Homo sapiens: one gene and its partners. The protein of the gene in region 2 purifies or fractionates together with the protein of the main gene of each other region. This does not show direct contact. Each region holds a gene or a part of one and is shown on either strand. Other genes may lie near its edges. The genes, in order: STRN, SNX24 and MOB4.

Region 1 (3,736 bases), on a different chromosome or scaffold from region 2:
AAATGCTATTTCAAACAGTATAGTTATAAATGTACATAAACTTAACCCAAATTCTTAAAAGGTAAATAATTACAACCTTCTAAGTAACTGTGTTCTGAAAGTTAAGAGACAGAAAGCTTTATAATGACAAATATTTTTCACAGCTGACTCTAGTAGTCGTAATTTTGATTAAGTTAAAAAAATAAACACAGACAATTTAAAATTGGTATGCATACTTGTATCTACATTGGATTCTAAAGTGAGAATGCGTTGTTGTGTTTCCATGTTAAAAATGCTTGTATATCCCTTGCTGAATGATGCTACCATATGGCTCGGGTCACTGCTCACTAGATCCACAGAGGCAGGGATTCCCAGTTCTGAAAGAGAACATATTGAAATAGAATGGCAATTAAACCATCTACTTGACAATCTGCTTAAAATAGAGCAAAACAAAAAATGGCATGGTTTCCTTAAGAAGTAAACAAGGCTTACCATTAGAATAAGAATTAGCTCATAACTATTCATTGGAGATTATTTCTTTGTAACTTTTAGCCCTAGTCTATTTATTTCCCTTACCTGCTTAGCAGATCTTCTACCTGTTACTCAACTGATATATTCATGGAATGCAAGCCTTTATTTAGAGAGCAAATGGAAAACATGTATGAATTACAAATTTTGCTGCTTCCGCCCAACCTCAAGCTTAGAGTGACATAGTGGGAATTCTTCATTTTAAAAAACCCATCTCTTATTAGGGATGTTAGCTCATCAAAAATAGAGAAATTAAAAAGTAAAATTTAAAATTATTATTTATCGTTAGAGTCATGCAAATACCATATGAAGACAACTCATCAAAGCCTGGAAAGAAGTTATAATAGCTCAAGAATACAGAAGGTATTTTTATTTACCATCTAGAATACATGAAAACTTAGAGCTTATTTATAAACATAAAAATAGAAGGAAACATATAAAGTGAATATAATAATCTGATTTTTTTCATTTGGCTCAAAATCTAACTACAGCAAGGTAACAGTTCAAAAATGTGCATACTGCAGAAGAAGATACACAAATAACCAATAAGCAAACAAAAGAAATGCTCATCAAAATTAGCCATCAAAGAAATGCAAATAAACTATGATGAAATACTACTACACATCCACCAGAATGGCTAAAGTTAAACAGACTGACAATACTGTATGTTTGTAAGGATGCAGAGCAACTGGAATGCTCATACACTGCTGTCAAAGGTGTAAAATGGTACAACTACAAAATTTTTTTGAAAAATTTTTAGTGACTTCACATAAAGTAAAATAAACATCCACCTGAAAGCCCAGCAATTCTAAGTCTCTACACACCTATAATGAAAATATATGAATGTTCATAGCAGCCTTGTTCAAAATAGCAAAAAACTAGAGACAACCCAAATATCCATCAAGATATAAATGAATAGACAAATTATGGCTTAATGAAATACTATCAAATAAAAATGAAAGAAATAATTGATATAACACAAATGAATTTCCAAAACATTATAATGAAGAATAAAAGCAAGATACAAAGAACACATACTTTACTATTCCATTTACATGACGTTTGAGTAGATAAAACTAATCTATGATGAAAGAAATCACAACAGTGGGTACCTCTGGCTGGGAATAAGGAAAGGAGGGGACTGACTTGGAAAGACACGAAGGAACTTTGGGGAGATAAAGGAAATGTTCTATCTCTCATACGGTTTGGATCTGTGTCCTCACTCAAGTCTCATGTCAAACATAATCCCCAATATTGGAGATACGGCCTGGCGGGAGGTGATTGGATCATGGGGTGGATTTTCCCCTTTGGTGCTATTCTCGTGATAGAGTTCTCACAAGATTTGGTTGTTTAAAAATAGGTCCCACCCCCTTCTTCCTCCTGCTCCGGCCATGTAAAACATGCCTCCTGTCCCTTTGACTTCCACCATGATTGTAAATTGCTTGAGGCCTCCCCAGAAGCCAAAGAAAAGTTGCTATGCTTCCTGTACAGAACCGTCAACCAATTAAACCTTTTTTTTTTTTAAACAAATTACCCAGTCTCAGGTATTTCTTTATAGTGGTACGAGAATGGGCAAATATAGTCTTTTTTTTTTTTAAAGAAAATGTAGAGACAGGGCCTCGCTATGTTGCCCAGCTGGTCCCAAATTCCTGGCCTCTCGTGATCCTCCTGCCTCAGCCTCCCAAAGTGCTAGGATTACAGGTGTGAGCCACCACACCTGGATTCTATGTCTTGATTGATGTATGAGTTACATGGGTGTACTCATCTATCAGACTCACTGAAATGTATCCTTAATATCTGTTTTTCACTACATACAAATTATATCTTAATTTTTTAAAATCTAAAATCTGTGTGTTCTTTCACCAAAAACTATGCTTTCAAAAATTATAGGCTGGGTGCAGTGGCTCATGCCTGTAATCCCAGCACTTCGGGAGGCTGAGGCAGGCGAATCACTTGAGGTCAGGAGTTCCAGACCAGCCTGGCCAACACAGCAAAACCCTGTCTCTACTAAAAAAACTACAAAAATTAGCTGAGCGTGGTGGTGTGTGCTGGAGGCTGAGGCAGGAGAATTGCTTGAAACTGGGAGATGGAGGTTGCAGTGAGCCGAGATTGCGCCACTGCACTCCAGCCTGGGCAACAGAGTGATACTCCGTCTCAAAAAAAACAAAACAAAACAAAACAAAACAAAACAAAATTATATATAGGTTGGAAATTCAAACAAATACACTTTCGTGGCTTCAAAAACTTTCAAATTAAATTTAAAGAGTTCAGGGAATCATTTATCTGCTTGCTTATTTTCAGAATAAACTGTTTTATAGAGGATTCAGCAAAATAATTTTTTAAAGTATGTACCTTTAGTATCATTAAATACACTTAGTGCTGGAGCAACCTCAGTTGTATTCCATAAACGCAGAGTGCCATCTGCTGAACAGGACAACAAACGCTGATGTGCTGCACTATAAGCCAAACCCCAGACTGCATCCGTGTGGCCTAGCAGAGGGCCTCGTAAAACAGAAGGATCTATACAAAACAGTAAAAATGCAAAATCAGGAGAAAAACAACCACAAAGGTACTTAGATTTCAGAGAAAGTAAAATATATAAACAATAGCACCTGATAACAGTATAAAATATGATTCTTGGTTTCTATTATTCTTCTGACAGGCTACAGTAAATCAAAACAAGCTTGGAAATATACAAATATAAAGTTAAAAAATTTTAAATTAAAATTTAAAAGCACGTATTTTTCCCCCTTAAAAAAACTGAGTATTTCCTCCCCCTTCCTTTTGTCCTTCCATTTGTCTAAATATTTTTAAAGCACGTTGATACGAAATCATTTGAATTTAATTCATCTTTGGAGAAACCACAACTCACACTCCCTGAGGAAGTGAACAGAGAGGTCCTCTCCCTCTCTGAAGTCCCTTAGCACTTTGGCTATACTTCCTTCTGTTCACTTATCTTACTATATGATGGATGGCAGTTTTTCCTGAAAATATGGCATTCATAATGGACAGGAAGTGACATCTACAGGAATCCCCAAATTCTCAAACAGCAGTAACTGAGATGCAGTGATAGTGTATGCAGGGGAAGAGGGAGGGAAGTGGGGAGGTTAAGCACAGTCTCATGATAAAAGTCAAATTGGAAACCTTATTAATCTTCACAATGATTCTATGAAGTGGTACTTTCAAGATGACTCACAAATGTTAAGTCTGGAAATGTCAATGGTGTTAT
Region 2 (3,500 bases):
CTTAATACCTGTGTGACCTTAGGTGAGTTATTGAACATCTCTGTCTCTCTCTTTCCTCAACTGTGAAATGGATTTCATAATAGTATCTACCTTATAGGCTGTTTTAAAAATTGGGGAGACAAGCGAATGAACACACAAACTATATCTTAGAAAATCTCTAATACATGAATATCCAGTTATTTCTGGTTGATGACACTTGATTTTTTTAGTGCATGCCTTTCCCCAACATGAAGTAATGGTTTTTCATGAAATATATCTTTGAAAGCGTGTGATAGGCCTTACACATGTATATTTAGAGCCCAATAAAAAACAATAATTTAGCTAAGTTAATTTTAATTCTAAATGTATTTCTCCCACATAGAAGGATATTAAAATCAATTGCCATAAATAGAGCTGTTAATTTTCTAAAAGATACTCAAATAGGACATATTACATGACGGTGGCAGACATGCCTTTATTCTTTGCCACTCACAATATAGAAGTCGATTTGAAGGTCAGTGAAATTACATTGTAAGTATATTTAGCTTAAAAGGATTCAACTAAATAAGTTAAGCAAAAAAGACATAAAGGAAAATAACATTACATACTATGGGTAACTCTACTGCGCTGGTAACATGTTAAGCAGTGACAAGAACAGGGCAAGGAGAAAAATACAGCAGGGCATGGGCTGGAGAGGGCCCAGAGACAGGGAAGTGAGGGAAGAATTTGAGTGATGGTGCCATTTGGGTGATGACTTGCAGGAAGGAACAAAGCAGCCCGCTGGGAGGGTGTCCGGGAGAAGGGCATTCCTGGCAGAGGGAACAGCAAGTGCTGAGGCTCTGTATGTATGTCCACCAAGAGCTGAACATATGCTAGATGCTGGGGATTTAGAGGACAAAGCCAAAGAACAAAGATAAGATAGTCTGTGACCATTACTATGAAGGAAGCAAATAGGGTTCTCTGACAAAAAGTGAATGGGATGGAGGTGTTTTAAAGCAAGGTCCACCAACTAGCGATCAGAAATAACATAATCAGGGTTTTGGGTTGTTTTCTCATCCGTTCCACTCTACTTTAAACTGTGGATTTTGGCTTCATCATATGCATGATTTACTACAATGTCCATTATTGCCAGCATTACTCAGTAAACTGTCCTTGACTTTGATTCTCATTGAGAGGTGATGAGAAGGAAGGTGATTTAGGGCAGGTTTTGCTGTTATTTTTGTTGGTTTTTGCTTATTTAATGAACATGTATTGTGAATGGGTAGAGGGGCTCGTGGAGAGGGAGAATCAGCACAGGCTCTCTGAAGCCGTGGCATTCAATGTGAGCCCTGGAAGATGAGAGGCAGCCGGCTATGGATGGAGAAAACAAGGCTCACGGTGGAGGAAACAGCACATCTGAGGCCCAGAAAGAATTCCAGGGTGGCTAGGGCAAAGTGTATGAGGAGGTCCAGTAGGAACATGAGCCTGGGGCAGGCCACAGAGGGCCTTGCAAACAAACCACAGGTAAGAGTCTGGAGCTCCCAGGACAGAGTTGAGATGGAGATACAATATTGTGACTCAGGTGTATACACGTGGTAGGCAGGCCACACACAAGGAGATTATCTGAAAGGAAGTGTAGTGAGAAGAGGAGAGGGTCTATGACAGCATTCTGGTCAGCTGCTAGAGAGTGGAAGGAAGTGGGAAAGCCAAGGGGAGACACTGTTTGAAGGAGGAGAAACAGATCAACATGTCTAAAGTCCATGAGAGGCCAAGGAAGATGAGGACTGAAAAATATCCATGGGCTTCAGCCACACTGAAATCACTGGGGACTTTGGCAAGAGTTGTTTTGAGTTTCCCAGGAAAATCAAAACAAAGACCAAAAGGCAAATGCTTTTCAATCTGTTAAGAGAGTACTCTCCTGATTTCTAATGTTAAAAGCTAAGGGATATTTGATTATTAGTATTTTATAAGAGGATAATGCTTAAATGTCAGATCTTTGAAGACAGACACTCCTCTGACTTTGTAGGGGGCGGGGTCAGTACATCTGTGAAGAAATTTCCATACGCAATATCCTCTGGAATAATAACCTTAATATCTTGCTAAGAGGCATCATAACAAAAATGTGATGCAAGTAAAGTTTCTCTTTAAATTAAATGCTAAAGATTTGCAAGAATATATCATTAGTATAACACTTCTAAGATCACAAGAATCTGATTCGTGAAACTGGATTGGTCAAAATTCCAAGAAAACAGATCTGGTGACTGGTCCTTCCATACCTCCCATCCCATCCATCAAACCTGTGATCCATTTATTCTCAAACAGGAGTTCCCTTATTTTGCAAGTCTTCATCCATATTACCATGCTACCAATGATACATACGTTTTACTCTTTCCAATTCAAGACATTTACCCCTGATGTTTCTTCCCAGAAAGTTCCTCCTGTTCTTCACTGTCCAAGCCAGGCATAGAGCACATGGTAGGCACTGCTCAATAAGCTGTATGAATTGGATTTAAAGGTCATAAAATATCTTCCCTCTTCTATCAAGTATCTTGGCTATTCTAGTCCACAGTAACCATTTCACTGTCTACACTTCTGCAGGAATTTCAGTCAGATGCATGACATATCTGAGCATAAACAATACATGGAAAAAGTGCTTGTGGAGCCATTTTTCAAAGATAATAAGAATAATTTATAAAACTATCTATTTAATCTATATTAGATTGCATTATGAATATTTGTTAAATATGATATTTTAACATGACATCAACTAACATGTATATTTGTTAAACATAAGAAGCAAACGTTACAGAGAGAAAGTTATTCTTCACTGCGAGGATCTTATAGGAAAAAGAATATGAGGTCATATTCCTATACAGCAAAGGCAGCTCACTCTGATCGGGGTGCTACTAGGAAGGGTCCCTCAACCCTTCCTAGGGAGGAGCAGGGCTGCGTCCTGGCCACCCTTCTTCAAACTGACAGCTAAGTGGGTGATGTGAGTACGTGTATCCTTGCTATAGAGAGCAGTTCCCTTTCTCCTGCTCATAAGGTTTTATTGTCAGAAACAGGGAGGGTTTCAATGGATTATTTATCTATTACTATTTAGTGACTCCCAGAAACAAGATTCACTATATGCAAAGAGCACAGAAGGAATACATAGGCAACAAGAGGTCCACCCATCAACCATCTGAGAGTGGACAAGTCAGGGACTTCCCTGGACCCCAATTTTCTCATTCAGTCAATGATAATATCTGCCCTGCTTAGTTCACAAGGTTGTTAAGGAAATTAAATGAGATAATGTATGCAAATGAGCTCATAAAGAGATGCATAACAGAACACTTTGAGAGGGACTCTGATGAATTTAAATTTCTTTGCACAGAGAAAAGACTCAGTCGAAAATATTGATTACAATTATACTTAGATCAATTAATTGTATTTAAAATATGCAACTTTTAAAAATATATAGTTTGCCATCAAAGATGCTGCAATGTATATACACATAGTTTCGGGGAAGAGGCTTTTTTTTGAGACGGAGTCTCGCTCTG
Region 3 (3,736 bases), on a different chromosome or scaffold from region 2:
CTGCCTGAAAATGCAAATACATAAATAAAAAGTCATATCTATTCTTCACAGCAATTTTTAGAATATTAGCTGCAAAAAGAGAATCCCATCAGTATCATCCCTCCTCCCTCATTACCATTCTCAAAACCACCTAAACTGACAATGACACATTTCTTCTAAAGGCTTACAGATTAAAAATAGAAAACCAATAACCCTCATAACATTCAATACCAGAGTTAAGTGAGCTGATCATTCTCTTATATACTAGAAATTAGTACAATTTTTCAGGGAAGTAATTTGGAAATATTTACCAAGACTTTTAGGAAGTGTATACTTTTCGACTAAGTCATTCTTCTAAGAATCTATTGTAATGAAATAATCAGATCTGCATGCAGATAAATGTATAAAGATGTTCACAGGAGCTATATATGCATATGAGAAAATTTCTGAATTGTAGAAAAATTCAGCAACTGGAGGGTAATAAAATGTTGGTACATAGAAACATACAAAGAAATTACAGCAGGGCGCAGTGGCTCAGGCCTGTAATCCCAACACTTTGGGAGGCCGAGGCAGGTGAATCACTTGAGGTCAGGAGTTCAAGACCATCCTGGCCAAAATGGTGAAACTCCATCGCCACAAAAATACAAAAATTAGCCGGGCATAATAGCGGGTGCCTGCAATCTCAGCTATTCAGGAGGCTGAGGAGGGAGAACTGCTTGAACCTGGGAGTCGGAGGTTGCAGTGAGCCAAGATCACACTACTGCACTCCAGCCTGGGAAACAGAGTAAGGCTCCATCTCAAAAAAAAAAAAAAAAAAATTACATTACAATTGCACTGAGGCCATCAGTTTTAGACAGCTATTTGATAAAAAGACAATCTTCTATGTCACAAAGGTAGTTTTACAGCTGTCAAAACACTGAACGTGTTCCCTCCTAAAGTCCTACCTATTAATATTTAGTTCAATGTATCAGGTTAGATAAATCAATACTATGTTTCCCCATCAGAAAAATTGAATCATTTTGGTTCCCAAAACAATGCAAAGCTAACACCTATATAATCAGAAGACAAAAAAAAATCCCCCCAAAAAAGAAAAAAACAGGATATATGTGAACAAATTTGGTGGAAAAACTTCATTTACTTACTTACTGCACATTGTAACAGAGGAAAACAAAAAGGCAAGGGTCAAATTTTCAGTTGTTTGTAACTGCATTTCCTTTCCAGATGCCTAATAATGCTGTCCTTAGATTACAAAAATAACATTATTTCTAAATCACCGTATCACCCTCTACTGTCCCCTATCAAGTAGACTGCATGTTATGTGTTTTTTAGTTGTTTTCCACCAAGTGGTAATAAAGACTGGTTGTGGTAAGTTTCTTACCCAACCCTTTTATAGCCAAAAGCAAAATTAAGTTGATTCAGCAGGGCTGTGGGTATAATCTGTGGCAAATAATGCAAAACTCACAACTTCAAGTTAATTTAATACAGGGCTAACATGTACACAGTTGTGCAGCTGAAGAGACCAACCAGAGCTGGAATCCAGCCTACATTCCAGTCACCACGCATGTATCCGGACATAAAGGAGTACTTTTTCCTAATCATTAAGACTCAATATGAGCTAGTGGGAGATATGACTGAAGTCATGACCCAATCTAAATTAACATCATTATATAATCAACTGCATTAACTAAAAATGGCAAGTATACAGCCTCAAATCAATAAAGGATGTATGCAAAAAAAAAAAAAAACCTCTTCCTGGTCAACTAATAAAATGTACACAATACAATAAAGAGATAAAAGAATATATACGATAGTTAATATACAACCCAGACCAAAAAGTGGCTAGTAGAAAAAAATAACAAAAGTAAAAATAGCACCAGAACAAATGAAATACTTGTGAGAAATATTTCATGTAAAGTTTTATGTAATGTTTTATATAATGTTTCATAGAATAAGTTAAATAGGGAGATAAATGTTTTCTTAGATCTGAAAAAAAAAAAACCCTTGTAACACTAAAATCAGCCCCTATTTGTTAGGAATTATGCTTGTAATGGAAAAAACGGCCAAGTGTGGTGGCACACGCCTGTAATCCCAGCACTTTGGGAGGCCAAGGTGGGCAGATCGTGAGGTCAGGAGATCAAGACCATCCTGACCAACATGGTGAAACCCCATCTCTACTAAAAATACAAAAATTAGCTGGGCATGGTGGCGTGTGCCTGTAGTCCCAGCTACTTGGGAGGCTGAGGCAGGAGAATCGCTTGAACCCATGTGGCGGAGGTTGCAATGAGCCGAGATCACACCACTGCACTCCAGCCTGGTGACAAAGCGAGACTCGAGACTCTTGTCTCAAGAAAAAAAACATAAGAAAGCAGTTATTTTCAAGGCTGATAAAAATAAAGCAAAGGATGTACTACACTAAAGTGCTCTCTGTCTTGGGTTGTAAAAATGGGAAAATATCTACAGACTCGTACTTTGAATTATTGTGCATTCATATATATTAAAAAGTTAGAAAATAGTCAAGTAATTTGTCTAAAAACTGGCAAAGGATACAAAGAAGTCTTAGCATCCTGAAATTGCTGAACTGTTATGACACGACATAATGTCTTAGCCATTTCTAAAGAAGCATGCAGCATCAAAAAGTAAATATTTTTAAAAAGTGCCTTGTCTACAAGTTGAGGCACACAACACAGGAAACATGGTCTAATTTATTCAGGAAAAGTCATATTTCTACTCTATTTATCTAAAAATCAACTTACAAATAATAAGCCCCAATGAACACATACTGCATTCTCTATATTTATTAATAATCTGTCAACTCATCCCAGCTCCCATTTGCACTGGAAAATTTATAATTTCAAGAAACACCTAGTAACTTCAGAATATATCTACTTTTAATGTTATCTCCACCTATCCACTAGTTATCAATTTTTTCATTCAAAGGGCATTATAAAAAGCACCAAAACTCCTTACTTCAGGATTACAATTAATCTCTATTTACCAAAGAGAAGACTGGAAGTTTGCAATAATTTACAGGTAACTTATCAGATACCAAGCCTAGACTAGGAACTGGAAGTAATCCTCTACAAAAACATAAAGTGGCCAAGTGCAGTGGCTCATGCCTGTATAATCCCAGCACTTTGGCAGGCTGAGATGGGAGGATCACTTGAGCCCAGGATTTCAGGACCAGCTTGGGCAACACAGTGAGACCCCATCTCTACAGAAACAAAGGAAAAAAAAAAGACAAGTCAGGCACGGTGGCTCACACCTGTAATCCCAGCACTTTGGGAGGCTGAGGCGGGCAGATCATGAGGTCAGGAGTTCGAGACCAGCCTGGCCAACATAGTGAAACCCCATCTCTACTAAAAATACAAAAATTAGCTGGGCATGGCTGCGCCTGTAGTCCCAGCTACTCGGGAGGCTGAGGCAGAAGAATCACTTGAACTCGGGAGGCAGAGGTTGTGGTGAGCCGGGATCACACCACTGCACTCCAGCCTAGGCAACAGAGCAAGACTCTGTCTCAAAAAAAAAAAAAAAAAAAAAAAAGACAAAAGATGACACAGTTATGCAAAAATGGGGAAACGGAAATACTATATTAGCGGTTAAGAGATACAATTAAGGAAAATCATGAAATAAGAATAAAACCCAGGCTGGCATGGTGGTAATCCCAGCACTGTGGGAGGCCAAGGTGGGTGGATTGCTTAAGCCCCGGAGTTTGAGACCAGCCTAGGCAACATGGTGAAACCTTGTCTCTACAAAAAAT

What was found.
Region 1: the proteins of SNX24 (region 2) and STRN purify together in Homo sapiens (affinity purification with mass spectrometry; 2 studies listed by BioGRID and IntAct, with this or other methods). This does not show direct contact.
Region 3: the proteins of SNX24 (region 2) and MOB4 purify together in Homo sapiens (affinity purification with mass spectrometry; 2 studies listed by BioGRID and IntAct, with this or other methods). This does not show direct contact.

What each region holds. Positions count from the first base shown.
Region 1 is NC_000002.12:36,854,997-36,858,732, forward strand, and holds part of STRN (striatin), read right to left. Parts: intron 3,028-3,736; coding exon 2,860-3,027; intron 357-2,859; coding exon 216-356; intron 1-215. UniProt on the Homo sapiens protein: Calmodulin-binding scaffolding protein which is the center of the striatin-interacting phosphatase and kinase (STRIPAK) complexes.
Region 2 is NC_000005.10:123,002,613-123,006,112, reverse strand, and holds part of SNX24 (sorting nexin-24), read right to left. Parts: intron 1-3,500. UniProt on the Homo sapiens protein: May be involved in several stages of intracellular trafficking.
Region 3 is NC_000002.12:197,536,379-197,540,114, reverse strand, and holds part of MOB4 (MOB-like protein phocein), read right to left. Parts: intron 5-3,736; coding exon 1-4. Other genes in the region: HSPE1-MOB4 protein, read right to left, coding at 1-4.